4 separate regions of the Homo sapiens genome follow, and all the other regions are linked to region 3. Evidence: fine-mapped expression QTL. A gene starts in region 3. Each other region holds a variant in brackets. All regions are shown on one strand. Distances are from middle to middle.

Region 1 (5,899 bases), 800 kb before region 3:
AAATGAACAGCATTTGCAAACCTTAGAAACATGGAAGAAAAATCAATAAGCTGTGTTTGAGAACTATAAGTAGTGCCTTACAACTGCAGAATAAGTTTGCATATGCAGGTAATAGTGAAATTTGAACCCAGAAAGATTAGCAGAGACCAGATCATTAAAGAACCTTAGATTAAGTTTCCAGGAGTTTGACCTTAAATCCTATAGCTTAGTGCTTCCTAAGATTTGATTTATTTAAGAGTCATTAATGGCCAGGCGTGGTGGCTGACGCCTGTAATCCCAGCACTTTGTGAGGCCGAGGCAGGCAGATCACGAGGTCAGGAGATCGAGACCATCCTAGCTAACACAGTGAAACCCCATCTCTACTAAAAATACAAAAAAAATAGCCAGGCGTGGTGGCAGGCGCCTGTAGTCCCAGCTACTCAGGAGGCTGAGGCAGGAGAATGGTGTGAACTGGGAAGGCAGAGCTTGCAGTGAGCCAAGATTGAACCACTGCACTCCAGCCTGGGTGACAGAGTGAGACTCCGTCTAAAAAATAAAAAAATTAAAAAATCACTTGAGGAATTAGAAAAGTTTCCTGAGCCCTAACCCCAACCTCCCAATTACTTTTTTTCTTATTTTTAAACTATTAGGTTCAGGGTTACACTCAGGTTTGTTATGTAGATAAACTACATGTCATAGGGATTTGATGTACAGATAATTTCATCACCCAGGTAATAGGCATAATACCTGATAGGTAGTTTTTTCGATTCTCATCCTCCTCCCACCCTCTACCCTCAAGTAGGCCCTGGTGGCTGTTGTTCCCTTCTTTGTGTACATATGTACTGAAAGTTTTATGGCTGTATAGTATTCCGTTGTGTATATGCACCACATTTTTTTTAATCCAGTCTAGTGTTGATGGATATTTAGGTTGATTCCATGTCTTTGCTATTGTGAATAGTGCTGCAATTAACATACGCATGGGTATGTGTCTTTATGGCAGAAAAATTTATATTCTTTTGGGTATATACCCAATAATGGGATTGCTGTATCAAATGGCAATTCTAAGTTCTTTGAGAAATCGCCAAACTGCTTTCCGCAATGGCTTAACTAATTTACATTCCCACCAGCAGTGTATAAGTGTTCCCTTTTCTCCACAACCTCGCCAGCATCTGTTATTTTTTGAGTTTTTTTGTTCTTTGTTTTTTGGGATTTTAAGAGATGGAGTTTCACTCTTGTTGCCCAGGCTGGAGTGCAATGGCACGATCTCGGCCCACCGCAACCTCCGCCTCCCAGGTTCAAGCAATTCTCCTGCCTCGGCCTCCCAAGTAGCTGGGATTACAGGCATGCGCCACCATGCCCAGCTAATTTTTTTTTTTTTTTTTTTTTGAGACATAGTTTCACTCTTGTTGCCCAGGCTGGAGTGCAGCAGCACAATTTCAGCTCACTGCAACCTCTACCTCCTGTGTTCAAGCGATTCTCCTGTCTCAGCCTCCTGAGTAGCTGGGATTATAGGCGCCCGCCACTATGCTGGGCTAATTTTTGGTTTTTAGTAGAGATGAGGTTTCACTATGTTGGCCAGGCTGGTCTCAAACTCCTGATCTCGGGTGATCCGCCCACCTCGGCCTCCCAGAGTGCTGGGATTACAGGCGTTAGCCACTGCATCAGGCCTTTTTGTTTTTTTGTGTTTTTTTGAGATGGAATAAATAGGAAATGGATTCACAGGCTCCTCGTTCTTGCTCTATTTGTTTGTTTGTTTTTGAGATGGAGTTAAATGGCATGATCTTGGCTCACTGCAACCTCTGCCTCGCGAGTTCAAGCGATTATCCTGACTCAGCCTCCCAAGGAGCTGGGATTACAGGCATGCGCCACCACACCCAGCTAATTTTGACTTTTTTTTTTTTTTTGAGACAGAGTCTTGCTCTGTCACCCAGGCTGGAGTGCAGTGGCACAATCATGGCTCACTGCAGTCCCAGCCTCTTGGGATCAAGCAGTCCTCCCACCTTAGCCTTCAAAGCAGCTGGGAGTACAGTGTGTACTACCTCACCTGGCTAATTGAGAAAAAAAAAAAAGTTTTTTATAGAGACATGTCTTGCTGTGGTTGCGCAGGCTGGTCTTGAACTCCTGGGTTCAAGCGATCCTCTTGCATCAGCCTCCCAAAGTGCTGGGATTATAGGCATGAGCCACTGTATCTGGACTCACTTAGAGGAGTCTAATGTGAATGGCCCAATATCTTCCAATAAGAAAGTCTTCTGTCAACTCTACTAAACCACAGATTTAATCAGAAAAGTGGCATTTCCAAGTTTTTATTTAATAAAGTTCATGTTGAAACTTGGGTAGGGAAAATTGGTAAATAAGTAGGTAGATGGACAGGACCTGGTGGCCAGTTATATTTGATTAATGATAGGAAAGAAGTATCTAGGTATAATGCCTGGGTTTTTAGGAAACTACGAGGGTTGATAGGGTCAGAGAAAATATATATGTAGTGTTAGAAGAACCTTGGTGAAACCAACCTTTTAGGTGTAAAGGATTAAGTAGATTCAAAAGATACTGCATTTTCAGAAGTCAAAAACTAGTGGAGAGTGGTAATC[G/A]CAATGGAAGAAAATGCCAAGAGGGAAGGAGAAAGTGACCTAGATCAGAAAGACTTAGGAAGGTCAATGCAAAGTGTGTTTATTAGATTTGTTAATTGCCAAAGCCTTAAGATAGAATGAGATTGCCTTCATTCACTTTCAGCAAAGCCAAGGGCGTTGTCTTTCCCTTTTCATATCTGGGACCTCATTTTATTTCAATTTTATTTGTCTCAAATCAAGATAGTAGGAATAATGAATTACTGTTCATTCTGATTTTTTGGTACTTGCAAAAGTATGTGTATGTTTTTAAACACTCCCCCAACTTCCAGACTTTTATAAGATTGGGAAAATAGCACAGATAATGTAATACTGATTGGCCTTAGAGCCAGTGACCCTGGACAACTCACCTAACCTTTCTGAGTTTCCCATATTTCCCTTTTTATCTTCCCCTTCACTTACATGGGTGAATTACAAAAAAAGTTTTACTACCCTAACATCAGGAAGGTCATTATAATGTAGTAGCAAAGAGCATAGACTCTAAAGCCAAACTGTCTCTTTGTGAATCTTGGCTCTGCCACTTACCTGTGTGTCCTGGGGAAAGTTAACTTTATGGGCCCCTGTTTCCTCAACTGTGATATTAGGATACTTTCAGTGTTCACCTCTAAGAGTTGTAGGGAGTCAACGAGTAAACACATGTAAGGCACCTTTTAGAAAGCTGCCTCCTACATAGTAACCTTTCTAAATCTTTGCTGCTGTTACCATTATGACATTATCATGATACCAGTATCATCCTCAGTCAACAAACGATAGATAACTCAGAGAATGAAAAGGTTGTTCCTTTATATAGTTTCCCTAGAATCACCTTGTACCACTGCTGCTGAGTTGCAATCATTCGTTAGTCGTATGTGACCTAGATTCCATTTTCTAAGATTATTCAACAATGTAGAGGATCAGCGTAGTGGAAATACGTCTATAAACATTTCTAAGAATTGAATTCATTGTAATTAATAGCATCAGAGAAGCTGAAAATCCAAAGAGCTAATCTCTTAACTTCATGATGGAGGACAAAGATTTTATCTTTTGGAATTTTAATAATGTTTCCAGCATGAGATTAGCCTTCAATATTGATTTCTGGAATTCTGTTTTCCCTTGTTTTTCATTGATTAACCTAAAACTTTTGAGATGTAGTTCATATTTTTGGTAATATTGCTATGATTATATAACTGTAACTGTCTAGAATTTAATTTCTAGCAAGGGAAATTTAAGCCTTTTCCTCAGAATTATTTTTCATGGGAAAATTCTTACTGATAGATTACTGGACTTGAGTCATAATTTATTGGTTATCTTATTCTGCCCTATCTACTCTCAGCACTAATTATAAAAATAATCAAAGAAATGTTTTTGGTTAGAAAACTGTTGTTCATTTGAGTTTTGTTTGGGTTTTCATTGTTTAGGTAAGGGAAAGTGGCAAGCGTTTTTTTTTTGTTGTTGTTTTTGAGATGGAGTCTTGCTCTGTCGCCCAGGCTGGAGTGCAGTGGTGTGATCTTGGCTCACTGCAACCTCCGTCTCCCAGGTTAGAAGGATTCTTCTGCCTCAGCCTCCTGAGTAGCTGGGACTACAGGCGCATGCCACCACGCCTGGCTAATTTTTTTGTATTTTTAGTAGAGACTGGGTTTCACCGTGTTAGCCAGGATGGTCTCGATTTCCTGACCTCATGATCCACATGCCTCGGCCTCCCAAAGTGCTGGGATTACAGGCGTGAGCCATGGCGCCTGGCCAAGCATTGGTTTTTTAAAAAGTTCTAAACCTCTATGGGCCCTTTCAGCCTTTTCAGCTGACCTTGTTTGGGGGTAAAACCTAAGGTTTGAATTTGTTTACTTATCTGCTTTTGTCTCTTACAGATTAAACTAACTTTCATTGTTAAACTTTAAAGAAACTCCTATGTTGAAATAGCCTATGTTTAATGGAACTTCATTTCTGACCTTTGTGCTCTCTTCTCTTTTTTTTTTTTTTTTTTTTTTTTTGAGACAGAGTCTTGTTTTTTCACCCAGGCTGGAGTACAGTGGCGCAGTCTTGTCTTAACACAACCTCTGCCTCCTGGGTTCAAGCAATTCTCTTGCCTCGCCTCCCGAGTAGCTGGGATTATAGGTGTGTGCCACCACACCCGGTTAATTTTTGTATTTTTAGTAGAGATGGGGTTTCACCATGTTGGCCAGGCTGGTCTTGAACTCCTGACCTCAAGTGATCTGCCTGCCTCGGCCTCCCAAAGTGCTGGGATTACACACATGAGCCACCGCGCCTGGCCCTCTCTTTTTTTATTATTGTTTTTGAATATTCTTTAGTCTTTTCAAAACAATTTTATTTAATTAGTTTTAATAGTTAACATAGTTTTGTTCCTCTAGACTACCCTTCAGTATTTTTCAAACCAGTAAAGTTTGATATTTTAATTAATTCACTCAAAAATTAGTTGAGTGCCTGCTGTGTCATATAGTGCTCTGATAGTTAGGGATGTATTTTGAACAAGATGCAGGCCCTGCCCTCATTAAGAGACGTCAAATAGTAAACATGTAAACAAATGGTTTAGATACCAATAAGTACTAGTCAGGTAGCGGATCATAGTAATCTGGTAATGGTTAACCTAAAGAAGAATGGGCCCATGGTCTGGAAAAGTCTCTCTGGAGAAGCAATATTTGAATTGGGAACTGGTGAGGAAGGATGAGGGAGAGGTTACCACACCTAGAATCTGAAGACAAGAGTCTTGTAGGCAAAGGAATGTGAAACACCTGAGATGGGAACAGCTTGACCTGATCCAGGAAAAGAAAAGCCAAAGTAGCTGGAGTTCAGTGAGTCAAAGGAAGTGGTAGAAGTTGAGATACGATAGCTAGACAGGGCCAGATACCTAGGGCTGCATAGATTTTGTTCTAATTCTAATATAAGGCCATGACAGCATTTTAATTGGGAAATAATAAGATTATAAAGATCACCCTAACTATTATATGGAGATTGAACTATAGGGAGACACTTGGGGAAGGAGGATGGTCATTTAAACTTCCATAAACCTGCCTTTTAAGAAATGTTTGTAGTAATATATGCTGAATTTTATTTAATCATATTTGCTTCAATATATATTTCACTTGTCCCAGATCAGCAAAAGTCAGGGTTCTTTAGAAAAATTCAAATCTATTTAATATATTTATCTTATTTGTGACCTACATTATGAAATAAATATTAGTATCTTTTGATAGCTTAAATTTAGGCAGTGCTTAGTTACTTATAAATAAGTGATAAATTCTATGGCTAATCTCTGGCAGGCTTAAGTGTTCTGGCTGTTGTCCTACATATTACAACATTTA
Region 2 (5,899 bases), 690 kb after region 3:
CAAGACCTCTGTGTGAACCTGAAAGTTTCTACCTCCATCCTTATCCCACCGAGTCTTGGTGCCTGAATGTGATCATCACTATTGCTTCTTACCCACAAGAATTTGCCTTGAACCTTCTTCCTAACAGAAACTGAAGCTTGCTAAAATATTGAGAAGTCAATTATTTCAAAGGACATTAAATCCTTAAGTGGTTTAGTCAAACATGGCAACTCCATTCCCCTTGGAAAGTGATTTGTTTAGGCATGGGCATGTGATCTAATTTTGGCTGAAGTGATGTCAAGGAAAGTCTGTCGGTGAGGCTCTAGGAAGGTTTTCTCACTCCTAAAAATGAACACAAGTCTAGCAGTTTTATTTTCTGTTTCTGGATGTTGTCACCTGCTTAAGATACCTGCAATGAGAGAGCCATCTGGTACCATCATGGGAACCAGCCTAAGAGGATAAAGCAAATTACTGTAGATGACAGAACAGAAAGGATGGATACTGGGTTCTTGGTAGCATCACTGAGACACTGAATTACCCAGCTTTAGAATTCCTCTAGCTCTGCATTTCTCCTTAAGGGACAAATAAATAGCCTTGTTTACTTGTTTTTTATACCATTTATCTTTGTTTGTTTGTTTTTAACTTCCAGCTAAAAGTACCCTAACTGATAAATTGAACTACCACATTTATTCATAATGTTTAAAGCATTGCACCTCTAAGAATCCCATCAGAGAATGTGAATTTTCTCTGGAAAGACTATAAAATAAAAACTTAATAACAGTAAAAATGATTACAAATAATAATAAAATCATCATTGTTATTATTTGGCATCATGGAAAACATAGGTTTTAAAATCAAATAAACCCAAGTTTAAAATCTGTCTCTATCTTGCCAGCTTGGTGATCTCGGCAAAATTATTTAACCCTTCTGATATTGATTCCTCATATTTTAAAGGGAAGTGATATAATAATATTTTGCAAGATTGCCGTATAAATTGTGATAGAGTATATAAAGCATCTGGAACATAGCAGGTATTCAGTAATTGGTAGCTCTATCTATTGGTCTTTTTCTCATCTATAAAATTGGTATACTAAAACTTCGCTCCTGAAGTTTATGTGAGTTCTAAAGGAGACAATGAATGTATGTAATCAGCACTTTACACATAACTATAATAGTCTCTTTGGGGATGGAAAATGGAGTGATCAGATTGACAAGGGAATGGAATGAAGGCATTGCTATCTGGTGAGAGGGATGGGAGACATTGGTACAACTTGAATGTTAGAAGAGGAATACCATCACAGGGGCAAAGGGCCCAAAGACAGCCTTTATCTTTCTCAATATTTGTGTAGGGACTTCTTCTCCTTAGAACTAAAAAAACAGGAAGTAAAATTTATAGACCCCTAGAGCCAGCAAAACCAATAGGTCAGGTTTACTATCAAAAGGATATTTCTTTAACAGATCTTTGACTCTTTCTTAGTGGCTCTCTCTCTCTATGTGTGTCTCTGTCTCTTCTCTCTAATTAAATGCCTACCCTGTGCTCTTACACATTTGGTGACTTTCAACAGTTATTCAGAATTTTAAAATCTTCCATGGTTTTTAGACCAGTTCCATTTAAAAAAAAAAATTAAGGTTGATATTTCACTTTGGTCTTAAACCAGAGCCAAGTAGGCTTTTCTCCAAAGAATGCTGGCACCTGTGATTCTACTACATGAATGCCAGGAAGTATGCTGACCAACGAGTTCTCATTTCAGATAAGCAGTTAATTTGTGGTGACCTTGAGCAGCCACTTTACTTACCTGGGTCATAATTTCCTTACCTGGGTATAATTTCCTTGGCTATAAAACAAGAGGGGTTGCATTAAGTCCCCTCTCTGAACTCAGAATCACCACCTGGCCCTTCTTTGTGGCCCTCCAGTCTCATGAGTCTTTTCAGTCTATGTGTATAATAATGTCTCTCTGTATCATTACCTTATTGTATAAACATCTCCCTGTGCATGTTTCTGCCATACCTAGGTGACCCAGCAGAGATTACTAAACTCATTTCCTCTTTGTCTTCGGTGTACAGTTAAACTTCCCTCGTGTGGCCACAAAACCATTCACCCTTCTCCTGTCTTCCTGCATCTGCTGGTGGAACCAAAAGACCCAGTGAAAGACTTTGAAGTCCTGGAACATGGTGGAAACAGCTTCTCTGACACCTTCACGTCCCCATCCATCCCCACACTTCGCCCCTGCCACCTCTCACTGGATTATGATATCAGTGAGAATGCATCTTCATTGTGTTAAAACACTGAAATTTGAAG[A/T]TTATTTAGTATAGTATTTGGCCTATTCTGACTGTACAACCCAGCTATGTAAAGTCTTAGAGACTAGGCAGTGTATTGCCTTCTTTTAAGAAATGAGGCAGTTTACAGGGCCCACTTTGATTATTTGGGCGGTTCCATAAAATGGTCACAACATGGGATTTAAAGAGATAAAAACAAAAAGGGGGAAAGTAAAGACAGATTTTCCTAAGTAAAAAGGAACTCTCTTTTTAATGCCAATGTTTTCTCTTCAATTAACAGCACAATTAACAGTGCATACCTCCTGGGAACATGTTACCAAAAGTTAGAAGGCCAAATTCCCTCAGCCTCTATCCAGCATCACAAATAACTTCAATGAGAACCATAGGAACATCGAGTGTCCTGTGAATCTGAGAACTGCAATGGGCCCTAGGGGCTCTTCCATCCAGGCTTATCATGATTCAGGAGAAGAAATTGAGGACCGAAGACATCAAATATAATAAGCTAATGGAGGAACTGAGGCTACTTGCCTGGCTCCAGTGCTCTTTCCTTTGCCTCAAAATCTTTACAGGTCAGCCATCTATCATGTGTAGAATAAGCAAACTGAATTAACATTGGAAATATTAAAAGAACAGAGGTTGCGTGGATATTGGTTGGAACAGAGAAGAAGTTTTCACAAGGAATTAAAGTAACACCAGCTGCTCACTGCTCTGACTTAAACCATACAGCAACTCCAGAAACATGGGGGGTGTTGTTGAGTGGCAAGGTAAGCTCAAGAATGCTAAATGTGTCTGAAGGCAAAGGGGATTATTTGTCATTGGCCTTCTGACTCAAAAAAGCCAACATATATATATATATCTCAAAACCTACTGATAAGCAGAAAGAATATAGGGCTGTTATACTTGGTTGGCATCACTTTGTTCAGAAAGCAAGAAGGCAGCTGCATTCCACACTGACCAAAACTATTATATCAGGTTGTGCTTCTCTTAGTCTTAGGTGTCTTCTCGTAGGACTGTTTTAAAATTCAACACGAGGGGAGAGGGAACAAGCTAGACACAGAGAAAATAGTTATATATTTAGAGGACTGTGAGATCTTAATAAAATTTAACCGTATGGGGGCTCTATTGCATTTACCATTCATTCAACAAAAGTTACTGATTGCCCATTATGTACTAGGCCCTGGTCTAGGCACATGGAATACACAGATGAATAAATATGTTCACTGTCCATTACTTTCTCAAAAGTTGAGGGGCCAGAAAACTAAAATGAAATGAGACAGACACTACTGGGGCTCAGGCTGGGTTGAGGGGAGGGCCTTCAACCCTGCCTTGCTATATTAGCAAAGGCTTCTAGGAGAGGAGTTGAGGCCTTTTCACGCTTTTTGAAGGAAAGATCGTGTTAATCAAGTAAATTAGAGAAAAGACATTCCTAGTGGAAGAAACAACCATGTCAAACTTCAAAGAATGATCAGGAAACTATAATAAATGTATTCTTTCTCTAGTGCATATTGTTGATGAGTATTTGGAGCAAGACACAGGTGTGTGCCATTCTGCACTTACTTGGTAATTAAGTGAAAAAAATCTAAAACTGAAAATTTAAGAGTAGATTTTCAAGTATTGTTTCAAAAGTTCAAACAATATTAACAAACTCAGTGTCTCACCCCACCTATTGGCTTTGCTTTTCGTTTTATTGACCCATTTTCCAGTAAGCTGTCTACTTAAAGAGACTGGTAGCTTGAGACTTAAGTAATCAGAACAGATAATAATCCTACAAAAAAAAAAAAGAGTTTTATTCTAATAGTTCCAGCAAGTCTTGAGATTGCATCTCATTGAGCTGGCTTCAGTCACATCACATTCCTGAACTAAGGCCCTGGTAGTACAAAGCTCAATCCTATCATCTTGACTGTCCTCTTCAGAGAAGAGATTTTCTTCTCTTCTCTGCACCTCCGTCTAACCTGTACTAAAGTTATCATTAGTTTTTCCTTAAATTAGAGAATCCAAACACATCAAACTCATGCAAAATAATGATGCCAGTTCCCTTCCTTACATTACACACACAAAAAATTAACTCAAAATGGATTATATACCTAAATGTGAGAGTCAAAACTATAAAACTCTTACAAGGAAACATAGGGGTAAATCTTTGTGCCCTTGAGTTAGGCAAAGCCTTCTTAGAAATGACACTAAAAGCGTAAGCAACAAAAGAAAATAGATAAATTTGACTTCATCAAAGTTTAAAAGTTTTATAATACAAGTAATACTATTAAGACAAATGATCGCACAGAGAATAGGAGAAAATATTTGGAAATCATATAACACATGTGACAAGAGACATGTATCCAGAATATATAGAGAACTCCTACAATTGAATAATAAAGGATAATTAATCCAATATTTAAATGGGCAAAGAATCAGAGTAGACATTTCTCTAAGGAAGGCATATGAATAACCAATAAGCTCAAGAGAAGATGCTTACAATGATCATTCATTAAGGAAATGCTAACTAAAACCACAAGATACCACTTCACAAAGCCACTATAGAGTGGCTAATAACAAGAATCGTAGAGGATGTGGAGAAATTGAAACTCTCATGCATTGCCACTGGGAATGTAAAATGTTGGAGCCACTTTGGAAGACAGATTGGTGGTTCCTCAAAAGTTGAACATGGAGTTACCTTATGACCTGGCAATCCCACTCCTAGGTACATACTCAAAAGAATTGAAAACAGGTACTCAAACAAATACATATGCAATCATAGTCATAGCAGCACTATTCACAATATCCAAAAGGTATAAATAACCCACATTTCAATCCATTGATGACCTGATAAACAAAATGTAGTATATCCCTCCAACGGCCTGTTGTTTGACAATAAAAAGGAATGAAGAATTGATCATAGTACAACATGAATGAACCTTGAAAACATTATACTAAGTGAAAGAAACAAGTCACAAAAGACCACATATTAGATTATTCCATTTATATAAGACATTGAGAATAGGCAAAGCTATAGAGATGGAAAGTGGATTAGTGGTTGCCAAGGGCTTGAGGGATGGGGAGGGATTAGGAGTGACTGCTGGTGGATAGTTCATTGCTTTTTGAAGTGATGAAGATATTCTAAAATTAATTAGATTCTGGGGGTTGTCACACAATCCTGTCAATATATTAATATCATTGAATTATTATATACTTTAAATGGATGAGTGGTATAGCATGTGAATTTTGCCTCAATAAAGCTGTCTAGTGAAACACAGTATAGACAAAGTATTTGAATAGGAATTTTCCCAAAGAAAGTATGCAAAAAAAGCCAACAAGCACATAAAAAGAGGTTAAACATTGGTCACTAAAGAAATGCAAATCAGTCCTGTTGTAGTGGCTCATGACTGTAATCCCACACTTTGGGAGGCAGAGGCGGGTGGATCACTTGAGGCCAGGAGTTCAAGACCAGCCTGGCCAATGTGTTGAAACCCCATCTCTACTAAAAATACAAAATTAGCCAGGTGTGGTGGCGGGTGTCTGTAATCCCAGCTACTCGAGAAGCTGAGGCAGGAGAATCGCTTGAACTCGGGAGGCGGAGGTTGCTGTGAGCCAAGATAGGGTCATTGTACTCCAGCCTAGGCAAAGAGCAAAACTCCATCGAGAAAGA
Region 3 (5,899 bases):
CAAAAAAAAAAAAAAAAAAGAAAGAAAATGTGGTACATACATGCAATGAAGGACTATTTGGCCACAAAAAAGAATGAGATCCTGTCATTTGCAACAACATGGATGGAACTGGAGGACACTATGTTAAGTGAAATAAGCCAGGCACAGAAAAACAAACTTTTCATGTTCTCTCTCATTTATGGGAGCTAAAAATTAAAACAATTGAACTCATGGAGATAGAGAGTAAAATGATGGTTACCAGAGGCTAGGAAGGGTAGTGGAGAGGGGCAGAAATGGTTAATGGGTACAAAAATATAGTTAGACAGAATGAATAAAATCTAGTATTTGATAGCACAATAGGGTGACTACAGGCAACAATAACTTATTGTACACATGTAATCCCAGCACTCTGGGAGGCCGAGGCGGGTGGATCACAAGGTCAGGAGTTCGATACCAGCCTGACCAACATGGTGAAACCCTGTCTCTACTAAAAATACAAAAGTTAGCCGGCCATGGTGGTGCGTGCCTGTAATCCCAGCTACTCAGGAGGCTGAGGCAGGAGAATCGCTTGAACCCAGGAGGCAGAGGTTGCAGTGAGCTGAGATCGCACCATTGCACTCCAGCCTGGGTAACAGAGCGAGACTCCATCTCAAAAAAAAAAAATTACTAAAAGATTATAACTGGAATGTTTGCAACACAAAAATATAATAAATGTCTAAGGTGATGGATATCCCATTTGCCCTGATGTGATTGTTACACATTGCATGCCTCTATCAAAATATCTCATATACCCCATAAATATGTCTATTATGTACCATAAAAATTAAAAATAAAAAAATTTTTAAATAAAAAGAAATTTTAGATAGAAAACAAAACCTAATCTTGGCCAAAGGAACCTCAGAAAAACCTTAAAAACTGAATTCCAGGCCAAGATGGGAAGAGAGGTTAGACACACCTCTATACCTTCTCCCTTTTAAAGTTTAGGCACAACTGACCAACATTAAGGTTAAACTAGAGATCATAAGACTGACAAAACACTCTGTGGCAATAAGATACCATATTATAAACAAGACCTAGGCTGGGCGCAGTGGCTCACGCCTGTAATCCCAGCACTTTGGGAGGCTGAGGCAGGCGGATCACGAGGTCAGGAGCTCGAGACCAGCTTGGCCAATATGGTGAAACCCCATCTCTACTAAAAATACAAAAATTAGCTGGCCGAGATGGCGCGTGCCTGTAGTCCCAGCTACTTGGGAGGCTGAGGCAGAAGAATCGCTTGAACTGGGGAGGTGGAGGTTGCAGTGAGCTGAGATCACGTCACTACACTCCAGCCTGGGTGACAGAGCGAGACTCCGTCTCAAAAAAAAAAATAAATACAAATAAACAAGACCTGCGAGCCAGGCGCGGTGGCTCACGCCTGTAATCCCAGCACTTTGGGAGGCCGAGGCAGGTGGATCATGAGGTCAGGAGTTCAAGACCAGCCTGACCAACATGATGAAACCCCGTCTCTACTAAAAATACAAACATTAGCCGGGCATGGTGTTGCATGCCTGAAATCCCAGCTACTTGGGAGGCTGAGGCAGGAGAATCGCTTGAACCTAGGAGGTGGAAGTTGCAGTGAACCGAGATGGGGCCTCTGCACTCCAGCCTGGGCGACAGAGCAAGACTCTGTCTCAAAACAAAACAAAACAAAACAAAACAAAAAAACTATGGCCATGCAAGGCAAGGATTAAGTCATGCCCTACAAACCATAAAATGTCGTTAAATGGTTTTTTATGTGCAATGGTATAATGTGCCTTACTTTCCAACCTGACTGGTGTAGAATCACATGACAGATAGCAGACTCCCTTTTCTTAAGCATTCCTTTCTACTGACTTCAAGTCTTTAGACAAAGCTTAACACTGTTTTTTGTTTGTTTGTTTGTTTGTTTTTGAGACAAGGTCTTACTCTGTCACCCAGGCTGGAGTGCAGTGGCACGATCTCGGCTCACTGCAACCTCTGCCTCTCAGGTTCAAGTGATTCTCCCACCTCAGCCTCCCTAGTAGCTGGGGTTACAGGCATCCACCACCGTGCTTGGCTAAGTTTTGTATTTTTAGTAGACACAGGTTTTCACAATATTGGCCAGGCTGGTCTTGAACTCCCGACCTCAGGTGGTCCACCCACCTTGGCCTCCCAAAGTGCTGGGATTACAGTCTTGAGCCACTGCACCTGGCCTGTGTTTTTATTTGTTTTTGAGACAGGGTCTCGCTCACCCAGGCATGAGTGCTGTGGCATGATCATGGCTCAATGCAGCCTCTGAGGCTCAAGAGATCCTCCCACCACAGCCTCTCAAGTGGCCTGGGACTACAGGCAGATACCATCATACACAGCTAATTAACACGGTTTGTAGAGATGAGGGCTTACTCTGGTGCCCACGCTGGTCTCAAATTCCTGGACTCAAGCAATCCTCTCACCTAGGCCTCCCAAGATGCTGGGATTATAGGCAGGAGCCACCTCGCCTGACTAAAGCTTAAATCTTTCAACAGATTGCCGATCAGAAAATCTTTGAATCCACCTATGATCTGTAAGCCTCTCCTTCAAGACATCCCACTTCCTTAGCCTGAACCAATGTATATCTTCCATATATTGACTTATTTTACCTGCAATTCCCAACTCCCTAAAATGTATAAAACAAAGAGTAATGCCACCGCTTCAGATGCTCTTTGTTAGGACCTCTTGGGACTATTCCCTGGGCCATGGTCACTCATATTGGTTCAGAATAAATCTCTTTAAAACCTTTTACAGAATTTGTTTTTTTTCCATTAACAAAATCATCTCATTTTGAGGCAACTGAAGCCTAAAATCGTTAGAGAAGCGCTTTGCCCAAGGATTCACACAATAGTGTTGCAAATGGAGATTTAGCACTAAGTCAGCTGTGTTGTTTTCACTATACTGGGTGCCTACATAGCAACTAGACCATGGAAAGTCTTCGCATATCTACGAGGATGCAATTTTTGATAGGAGTTGGTCATAGTCAAGAGTGGCTAGATGGCCACTTCTAAATCTTGTTGGTGCTGGATTTCCTAAACTCTGTGGGATTACTTCTTTTTTTGACCTCAAAACAGAAAAATTTCCTCTGTAACACGATTCACTAACACATGAGGTAATCACACTGCTTTGAGGTCTGTAAGGATCAAGTTGGAACCGTCATCCCCTTCCCTGGCAGTCCCTAAAATCCTTCGAGATGACGTCACCCAACGAGTTCAAGAGGGCGGTGCGTTCCTAACCACACCTTCTGCAACCCAAGTGCCGCCCCTCTGACTTTCTCCTTTTTCCTTTTTTCCGGAACGCCGGAACGTAAGACGTGGGTCACGCAACAAGAGCAACTAGTCCCGGAAGCAAAAAGCAAAGAGGCGGAGAAGAAGACGGGAAGCAGAGCCCGCGTCCGGGTCGGCCGGCAGGGGGCGGGGCCGGGCATGGTAACGGCTCGGAAGCCTAGGAGGCTGGGCCGGAGGGAGGCGGAGGAACCGGTGTTCGCCGCCGCCGCTGCTTCAGCTTATTCCTTGTGGCCTCTGCGGGTCCTGCCTCAGCCATGATGATCCACGGCTTCCAGAGCAGCCACCGGGATTTCTGCTTCGGGCCCTGGAAGCTGACGGCGTCCAAGACCCACATCATGAAGTCGGCGGATGTGGAGAAGTGAGGCTTCGGGGCACGGGGTCTGGGCGCTGGCCGGTTGCTGGCCCAGGGCGGGAGGCAGGGCGAACTCTGTGCAGCCCCTCCCCTTTTCCCTGAGGCGGAGGTTCGGTCCCTCCGGACCGGACCTTTGATTGACAACTTCGATAAATAATCCAGTCACACTTCCGGGCCCTTTGGTTGGGGATCGCCAGGCGCTGCTTTCGTCAACTGTCAATCCGCCTGGGTTTGAGTAGAGTGTGACTGTTCTGGTGGACTTTCCCCTCACCAAACGTCTCCTCCTGCCTCAGCCTGCACCACCTTTCTTTCTGGGTGGCTGTTGCCTGTTTTCTTAGGGGTTAATGACGGGGATGATTTATAAGTTTGGTTTCTGTCACGTCAGGTGCTGTGCCCGGCGCTTGAGATAGGAAATGTAAAAGACAACGTGCGCCTCAATTCACAGTCTCGTGAGAGAGACAGACAATTATATTACAGCGTGAATAAATGTAATGAAGATGTATACACGGAGTGATGTGAGGTCTTTTAGGGGCTCGAACCATCTGGGAAATTGGGATGCCTGAACTGAATCTTTATAAAACCGTTGCGGGGGGCGGTGGATAGGTACATGCCATCAGGTCAGGCAGAGTGAGTTGTGATGCGTTTTTGATGCCTGGGCTGAATCTTGACAAAATTTAGGGGAATCAGGGGACGCATGTAAAGCTGGGGGCTCAGGGAGAGTGAAAGCTGTGATGTGTTTAAAGAGCTGTGTCCGTGTGATTGGAGCGTGAGGTACCATAGGGGGTGTTGTGAGAGATGAGAGGTAGGCCCCAGGGGAATCAAGATACTGAGGGAATTTTTATGCCTGGCTAAGGAGTTTTCAATTTTATCTGACAACCACTGGGTGTAATTTTATCCAAAGGAGCTGCATTATCAGATGTACGCTCTGAAAGATTTCTCTGGAGGCCATGTTGAGGCTGGATTGCAGGTCCGCAGGGATGGGAAGGAGACCAGTTAGTAAGAGAAAAGATAGGTTTTAGAAGATTAAGTCCCTGGGATGGCCAGCTGATGGGAGGAGAAATAAAAAAGGAAGAGTCTATGCTGATGACAAGATCTCTGGCTTGGATTTTTGCATGTATCGTATGCCTTTGAACAAGATGAGAAGCACAGGAGGAGGAGAAGCAGATGGGGGCAGGGTGTTGGTTAGAGGATGAGTTTAGTTTATTGAAATGTGAGGTGGGTATAGGTCATAAAGTGAAGATGTGTAGTAGGCATTTAGATATATTTATCTTGGAGCTCAAAAAAGATAACGTCTGTGGGTTTAAGTTTGGGAATTATCTGCTTATATTTGGTACCTGGAGCTTTGGGAATGAATTAAGGTATCTAGAAGTCATCCAGAGGAAAAGGTCATAAAATAGAACCCTAAGTGAGTACTTGCATTTTAAGATTTGAGCAGAGGGAGTGACCAGGGAAGAGAGGAAAGTAATGAAACGATGTTTGCTTCCTAATTCAAGAAAATAAGTGGTAATATTCTAGTAGACTCACTGAAAAAAATTAGGAAAATACAGAAAAGAAAGGAAAAAAATTTCCCTTCATCCCACCAGAAATTGAATTACTTTTTTGAGTTTTTCCTCTCTATATCTTTCTTTTCTTTTTTTTTTATAACTTTTTTTTTTTTTTTGTATTTTTAGTAGAGACGGAGTTTCTGCATTTTGCTCAGGCTGGTCTCGAACTCCTGACCTCAGGTGATCTGTCCGCCTTGGCCCCCCAAAGTGCCGGGATTACAGGCATGAGCCACTGCGCCCAGCCTTGTATAACTTTTATTTATTTTTTATTTTGTTTTTTTGAGACAGAGACTCACTCTGTCGCCCAGGCTGGAGTGCAGTGGCACAGTCTCAGCTCACTGCAGCCTCCGCCTTCCAGGTTCAAGTGATTCTCCTGCCTTAGACTCCCTGGTAGCTGAGACTACAGGCGCGTGCCACCACGCCTGGCTAATTTTTGTATTTTTATTTATTTATTTATTTTTAATTTTCTTTTCTTTTCTTTTTTTCTTATTCTTTCTTTCTATTTTTATTTTGAGATGGAGTTTCACTTGTTGCCCAGGCTGGAGTGCAATGGCGCCATCTCGGCTCACTGTAACCTCCACCTCCTGGGTTCAAGCGATTCTCCTGCCCAGCCTCCCAAGTAGCTGGGATTACAGGCATGCATCACCACGCCCAGCTAATTTTGTATTTTTAGTAGAGATGGGGTTTCACCATGTTGGTCAGGCTGGTCT
Region 4 (5,899 bases), 30 kb after region 3:
TAAAGAAAAACAACATACGTATCTTAATTTAAAAATGCTTTATTAAAACAAAATGCTAATAATCATCTGACCCTTCAGCAAGTAGCAGTATTTTTGCTGGTAGAGGACCTTGCTTTGAGTTGATGGCTGCTGACTGATGATGGCTGTGGCAATTTCTTAAAATAAGACATCAACGGCCAGGTGTGGTGGCTCACACCTGCAATCCCAGCATTTTGGGAGGCCGAGGTGGGCGGATCACCTGAGGTTGGGAGTTCAAGACCAGCCTGACCAACATGGAGAAACCCTGTCTCTACTAAAAATACAAAATTAGCTGGGTATGGTGGCACATGCCTGTAATCCCCGCTACTCGGGAGACTGAGGCAGGAGAATCATGTGAACCTGGGAGGCGGAGGTTGCGGTGAGCAGAGATCACACCATTGCACTCCAGTCTGGGCAACAGGAGTGAAACTCCGTCTCAAAAAAAAAAAAAAAAAAGACATTCAACCCTCTTAGATCCTGCCACTACTTTATCAGCTAAGTAACTAAGTATATGTAATATTCTAATCCTTTGTTGCCATTTCAACAATGCTTACGGTATCTTCAACAGTAGATTCCATCTCAAGAAACCACTTTCTTTGTTCATCCATAAGAAGCAACTCCTCATCCTGTTAAAGTTTTGTCATGAATTTGCAATAATTCTGTCACACCTTTAGGCTCTGCTTCTAATTCTAGTTCTCTTGCTATTTCCACCCCATCTGCAGTGACTTCCTCCACTGAAGTCCTGAACCTCTCAAAGTCATCCACAAGGGTTGGAATCAACTTCTTCCAAACTCCTGTTAAAATGTTGACATTTTGACCTCCTTCCATGAATCACAAATTGGCATCTGGAATGGTTAATCCTTTCCAGAAAGTTTTCAATTGACTTTGCCTGGTTCCATGAGAGGAATCACTATCTATGGCAGCTATAGCCTTATGAAATGTATTTCTTAAGAAATAAGACTTGAAAGTTGAAATGACTCTTTGATCCATGGGCTGCAGATTGTATATTGTGTCAGCAGGCATGAAAACACAGCATTCATCTCCTTGTACATCTCTATCACAGCTCTTGGTTGACCAGCTACATTGTCAATGAGCAGTGATATTTTGAAAAGAATCTTTTTTTCTGAACAGTAGGTCTCAATACTGGGCTTAAAATATTTAGTGAGCGAGGCTGTAAAGAGATGTGCTGTTATCCAGGCTTTGTTGTAGAGCACAGGTGGTAGCAACTGATCATAATTCTCAGCTCTAGGATTTTGAGAATGGTAAATGAAACTTTCTCAGTATCAGCAGTAAGGCTGTTTTGCTTTATTATCATTTATGTATTCACTGGAGTAGCACTTTTCATTTCCTTCAAGAGCTTTTCCTTTGCATTCACAACCTGGCTAACTCGTACAAGATGTCTGGCTTTCATCCTATCATGCCTTCCTTACTAAGCTTAATCATTTCTAGCCTTTGATTTAAAGTGAAAGACATGGGACTCTTCCTTTCACTTGAACACTTAGAGGTCATTGTAGGTTATTTTTTTTTTTAAGCATGGAAATAAATTTTTTTATTACTGAATTATTTCCCTTATTTGACTTTCATAAGGAAATACTCAAAAACCACTTCAAAATAACTCAATTCTCACTCATACACATAGCATTTTCAGGACACCATATTTTCTTTTTTATTATTTTATTTTATTTTATTTTATTTTATTTATTTTTTTATTGATCATTCTTGGGTGTTTCTCGCAGAGAGGGATTTGGCAGGGTCATAGGACAATAGTGGAGGGAAGGTCAGCAGATAAACAAGTGAACAAAGGTCTCTGGTTTTCCTAGGCAGAGGACCCTGCGGCCTTCCGCAGTGTTTGTGTCCCCGGGTAGTTGAGATTAGGGAGTGGTGATGACTCTTAATGAGCATGCTGCCTTCAAGCATCTGTTTAACAAAGCACATCTTGCACCGCCCTTAATCCATTTAACCCTGAGTGGACACAGCACATGTTTCAGAGAGCACTGGGTTGGGGGTAAGGTCATAGATCAACAGCATCCCAAGGCAGAAGATTTTTTCTTAGTACAGAACAAAATGGAGTCTCCTATGTCTACTTCTTTCTACACAGCCACAGCAACAATCTGATTTCTCTATCTTTTCCCCGCATTTCCCCCTTTTCTATTCGACAAAACTGCCATCGTCATCATGGCCCGTTCTCAATGAGCTGTTGGGTACACCTCCCAGACGGGGTGGCGGCCGGGCAGAGGGGCTCCTCACTTCCCAGAAGGGGCAGCCGGGCAGAGGCGCCCCCCACCTCCCGGACGGGGCGGCTGGCTGGGTGGGGACGCTCCTCACTTCCCAGACGGGCGGCTGCCGGGCGGAGGGGCTCCTCACTTCTCAGATGGGGCGGCTGCCGGGCGGAGGGGCTCCTCACTTCTCAGACGGGGCGGCTGCCGGGCGGAGGGGCTCCTCACTTCTCAGACGGGGCGGCTGCCCGGCGGAGGGGCTCCTCACATCCCAGACAGGGTCGTCGCCGGGCAGAGGTGCTCCTCACATCCCAGACGGGGCGGCGGGGCAGAGGCGCTCCCCACATCTCAGACGATGGGCGGCTGGGCAGAGACGCTCCTCACTTCCTAGACGAGATGGCGGCCAGGAAGAGGCGCTCCTCACTTCCCAGACTGGGCAGCCGGGCAGAGGGGCTCCTCACACCCCAGACGATGGGTGGCCAGGCAGAGATGCTCTTCACTTCCCAGATGGGGTGGCGGCCAGGCAGAGGCTGCAATCTCGGCACTTTGGGAGGCCAAGGCAGGCGGCTGAGAGGTGGAGGTTGTAGCGAGCCGAGATCACGCCACTGCACTCCAGCCTGGGCAACATTGAGCACTGAGTGAACGAGACTCCGTCTGCAATCCCGGCACCTCGGGAGGCCGAGGCTGGCAGATCACTCGTGGTTAGGAGCTGGAGACCAGCCCGGCCAACACAGCGAAACCCCGTCTCCACCAAAAAAATACGAAAACCAGTCAGGCGTGGCGGCGCGCGCCTGCAATCGCAGGCACTCGGCAGGCTGAGGCAGGAGAATCAGGCAGGGAGGTTGCAGTGAGCGGAGATGG[C/T]GGCAGTACAGTCCAGCTTCGGCTCGGCATCAGAGGGAGACCGTGGAAAGAGAGGGAGAGGGAGACCGTGGGGAGAGGGAGAGGGAGAGGGAGAGGGAGAGCCATTGTAGGTTATTAACTGGCCTAATTTCAATATTGTTGTGTCTCAGGGAACAGAAAGGCCTGAGGAGAGGGAGAGAGATGGGACAATGGAAGGTCAATGGACCAGTCACAGCACACACTACATTTATCGATTAAGCTCATTGTCTTATATAGGCAGAATTGTTGATATCCCCCAACAGTTAACAATAGTAACATCAAGGATCACTCATCACAGATCACCATACAGATATAATCAATGCAATATCTGTGAAGCACAATAAACCAAAGTACAAAAAAAGACATACACCCATATGTAATTAAAGTCCAAGAGAAAACAGAAATGGACTGCGGGATAAGAAATATCAGTAGAGGCCGGGCGCGGTGGCTCACGCCTGTAATCCCAGCACTTTGGGAGGCCGAGGCGGGCGGATCACGAGGTCAAGAGATCAAGACCATCCTGGCCAACATGGTGAAACCCCGTCTCTACTAAAAATACAAAAATTAGCCAGGCGTGGTGGCACGCACCTGTAGTCCCAGCTACTCGGGAGCCTGAGGCAGGAGAATTGCTTGAATCCGGGAGGCAGAGGTTGCAGTGAGCCGAGATTGCACCACTGCACTCCAGCCTGCCAATAGAGTGAGACTCCATCTCAAAAAAAAATAATAATAATAAAATAAAAAGAAAGAAAAAAATGTATCAGTAGAGATAATGGCCAAGAATTTTCCAAAGTTAATGAAGAACAGTAACTCACAGGTCCCAGAATTCCAGAAATTCCACATTGTAAGTCAAACTGCTGAAACCAAAGATAAGAGTTAATCTCTCAAAGACAGTTGGAGGAAAAAGAAACATTATATACAGAGAAAGAAACACATAAGAATTATAGCCAACTTCTGGTCAGGGAGTAAATGAGCAAGAAAATAATGAAGCGAAGGTCCATGTAAGGAGCTTGGAAGTCATCATTCCATCTTGACAATAAGGAAAATGCTGGACAAAGTGAAGACACAACTCTTCTTGGATCCCTCAGAAAAGTGACGTTACAGGGCAAAATGCTACTCCCAAAATTGAAGAGACAGGCAAATACAGAGAATTACAACTTAATGGAGCAGGAACTCAGAAGCAAAAACCTCCGTGGGCACTAGTGCCAGGGTAGGAAAATCTAAATTGTGCTTGACAAATAGCTGGAGGCTCAGTGTGGACAAGTTTGAGATTAAAAACTCCAAGGGGGCCAGATGTGGTGGCTCATGTCTGTAATCCCAGCACTTTGGAGCCCAAGACAGGCAGATCACCTGAATTCAGGAGTTCGAAACCAGCCTGGCCAACATGGCAAAACCCCATCTTTACTAAAAATACAAAAATTAGCCAGGTGTGGTAGCATGCGCCTGTAATTTCAGCTACTTGGGAGACTAAGGCATGAGAATCACTTGAACCCAGGAGGCAGAGGTTGCAGTGAGCCAAGGTCACACCATTGCACTCCAGCCTGGGCAACAGAGTGAGACTCCATCTCAAAAAATAAAATAAAACAAATAAATAAAAACTCCAGGGGGACCCAGTCATAGGGCAACCGCCACACTTCTCTGAGTTTTACCTCCAGGCACTCAATCAGGTTCTCACAGTAAAGACTGGCCAAAAATCCCTTTGGGATTTCATCAGGGGAAGGGGACAAATAACCATTTTCAAATATGCCAGAGCTTTCTCTTGTTAACAAGGCCTGCCCTTGAGAGAAACTGTTTTACTAGAGCCTAATCTAGTAAAGTTTTTTCAGAGTCTTACTGATTGGGGGAAGAGAAATATCCAACTCCAGTCAGCTCTAGCTATCCTGTTCCACCCAATGGTGGGGAGGGAGGTACGGAGAAGCACTTGTGAAGTTCACAGTCCAGAGGCACAGGCTCATTAAAAGACTGAGACTGAATCCTATTCGACCTTTGAACTCACAAAGACTTTCTTCTTCCTCTTTTGCTGATGTTGTTTACAGGCACTCAGAATGGTCCAGCATTTGATATACCATCGTAGGCTTTCCTACAATATAGCCTCTAACAAAACTAGGCTGTCCCAAACCCCAGGTAATAGAATTGTTTACTTTTATACCAAGAAGGTTGGGAAAGCACCAAAATCTGCATGTGGCATGTGCCCAGGCAGACTTTGAGGGGTTCGTGCTGTGAGACCTAAAGTTCTTATGAAATTGTCCAAAACAAAAAAACATGTCAGCAGGGAATATGGTGGTTCCATTTGTGCTAAATGTGTTCATGACAGGATCAAGCATGCTTTCCTTATCGAGGAGCAGAAAATTGTTGTGAAAGTGTTGAAGGCACAAGCACAGAGTCAAAAAGCTAAATAAAAAATGAAACTGTTGCTGGGAGTGGTGGCTCACACCTGTAATCCCAGCACTTTGGGAGGCCGAGGCGGGCAGATCATGAGGTCAGGAGTTCGAGACCAGCCTGACCAACATGGTGAAACCCTGTCTCTACTAAAAATACAAAAATTAGCTGGGCATGGTGGCATGCACCTGTAATCTCCGCTACTTGGGAGGCTGAGGCAGGAGAATCGCTTGAACACGGGAGGTAGAGGTTGCAATGAGCCCTGCATTCCAGCCTGGACGACAGAGCGAGACTCCTTCTCAAAAAAAAAAAGGAAAGAAAGAAACTTTTTTGAGCAATAAAAATGAAAAGACTTTAAAAAAAGACTGAGACCTAATCATAGGACTATAAAATACCTTTCCTTCCCACAC

Direction of the effects. Positions count from the first base shown, and alleles are read on the strand shown. Sizes are in standard deviations (SD) of each study's normalised expression. Not every link is listed here.
In carriers of allele A in region 2, the expression in prefrontal cortex of the gene that starts at base 3,432 in region 3 tends to be lower than with T alone (large effect, 0.94 SD a copy in ROSMAP).

Evidence for each region. PIP is the estimated chance that this variant, and not a neighbour inherited with it, causes the effect.
Region 1: its variant is the best candidate, but not a certain one, in a credible set for the expression of TIPRL in rectum (CEDAR, PIP 0.52).
Region 2: its variant is the best candidate, but not a certain one, in a credible set for the expression of TIPRL in prefrontal cortex (ROSMAP, PIP 0.55).
Region 4: its variant is the best candidate, but not a certain one, in a credible set for the expression of TIPRL in whole blood (INTERVAL, PIP 0.59).

What each region holds. Positions count from the first base shown.
Region 1 is chr1:167,377,059-167,382,957 of GRCh38, forward strand. The region is part of intron 7 of POU2F1 (POU class 2 homeobox 1); the gene reads left to right. Among named protein-coding and RNA genes, the nearest start is that of CD247, 140 kb to the right of the region's middle. The variant G/A (reference allele first, on the strand shown) is at 2,568.
Region 2 is chr1:168,866,441-168,872,339 of GRCh38, forward strand. It overlaps LOC105371606 (a long non-coding RNA gene), which reads left to right. Exons shown (of 2, transcript XR_922261.3): 2 at 2,537-3,759. Among named protein-coding and RNA genes, the nearest start is that of LINC00626, 82 kb to the left of the region's middle. The variant A/T (reference allele first, on the strand shown) is at 2,279.
Region 3 is chr1:168,175,531-168,181,429 of GRCh38, forward strand. TIPRL (TOR signaling pathway regulator) reads left to right here and starts at 3,432. Exons shown (of 7, transcript NM_152902.5): 1 at 3,432-3,651. The coding sequence starts at 3,548. RefSeq lists enhancers at 3,055-3,556, 3,544-3,663.
Region 4 is chr1:168,205,461-168,211,359 of GRCh38, forward strand. It overlaps the pseudogene RPL34P1. Among named protein-coding and RNA genes, the nearest start is that of SFT2D2, 18 kb to the right of the region's middle. RefSeq lists an enhancer at 2,715-3,307. The variant C/T (reference allele first, on the strand shown) is at 3,096.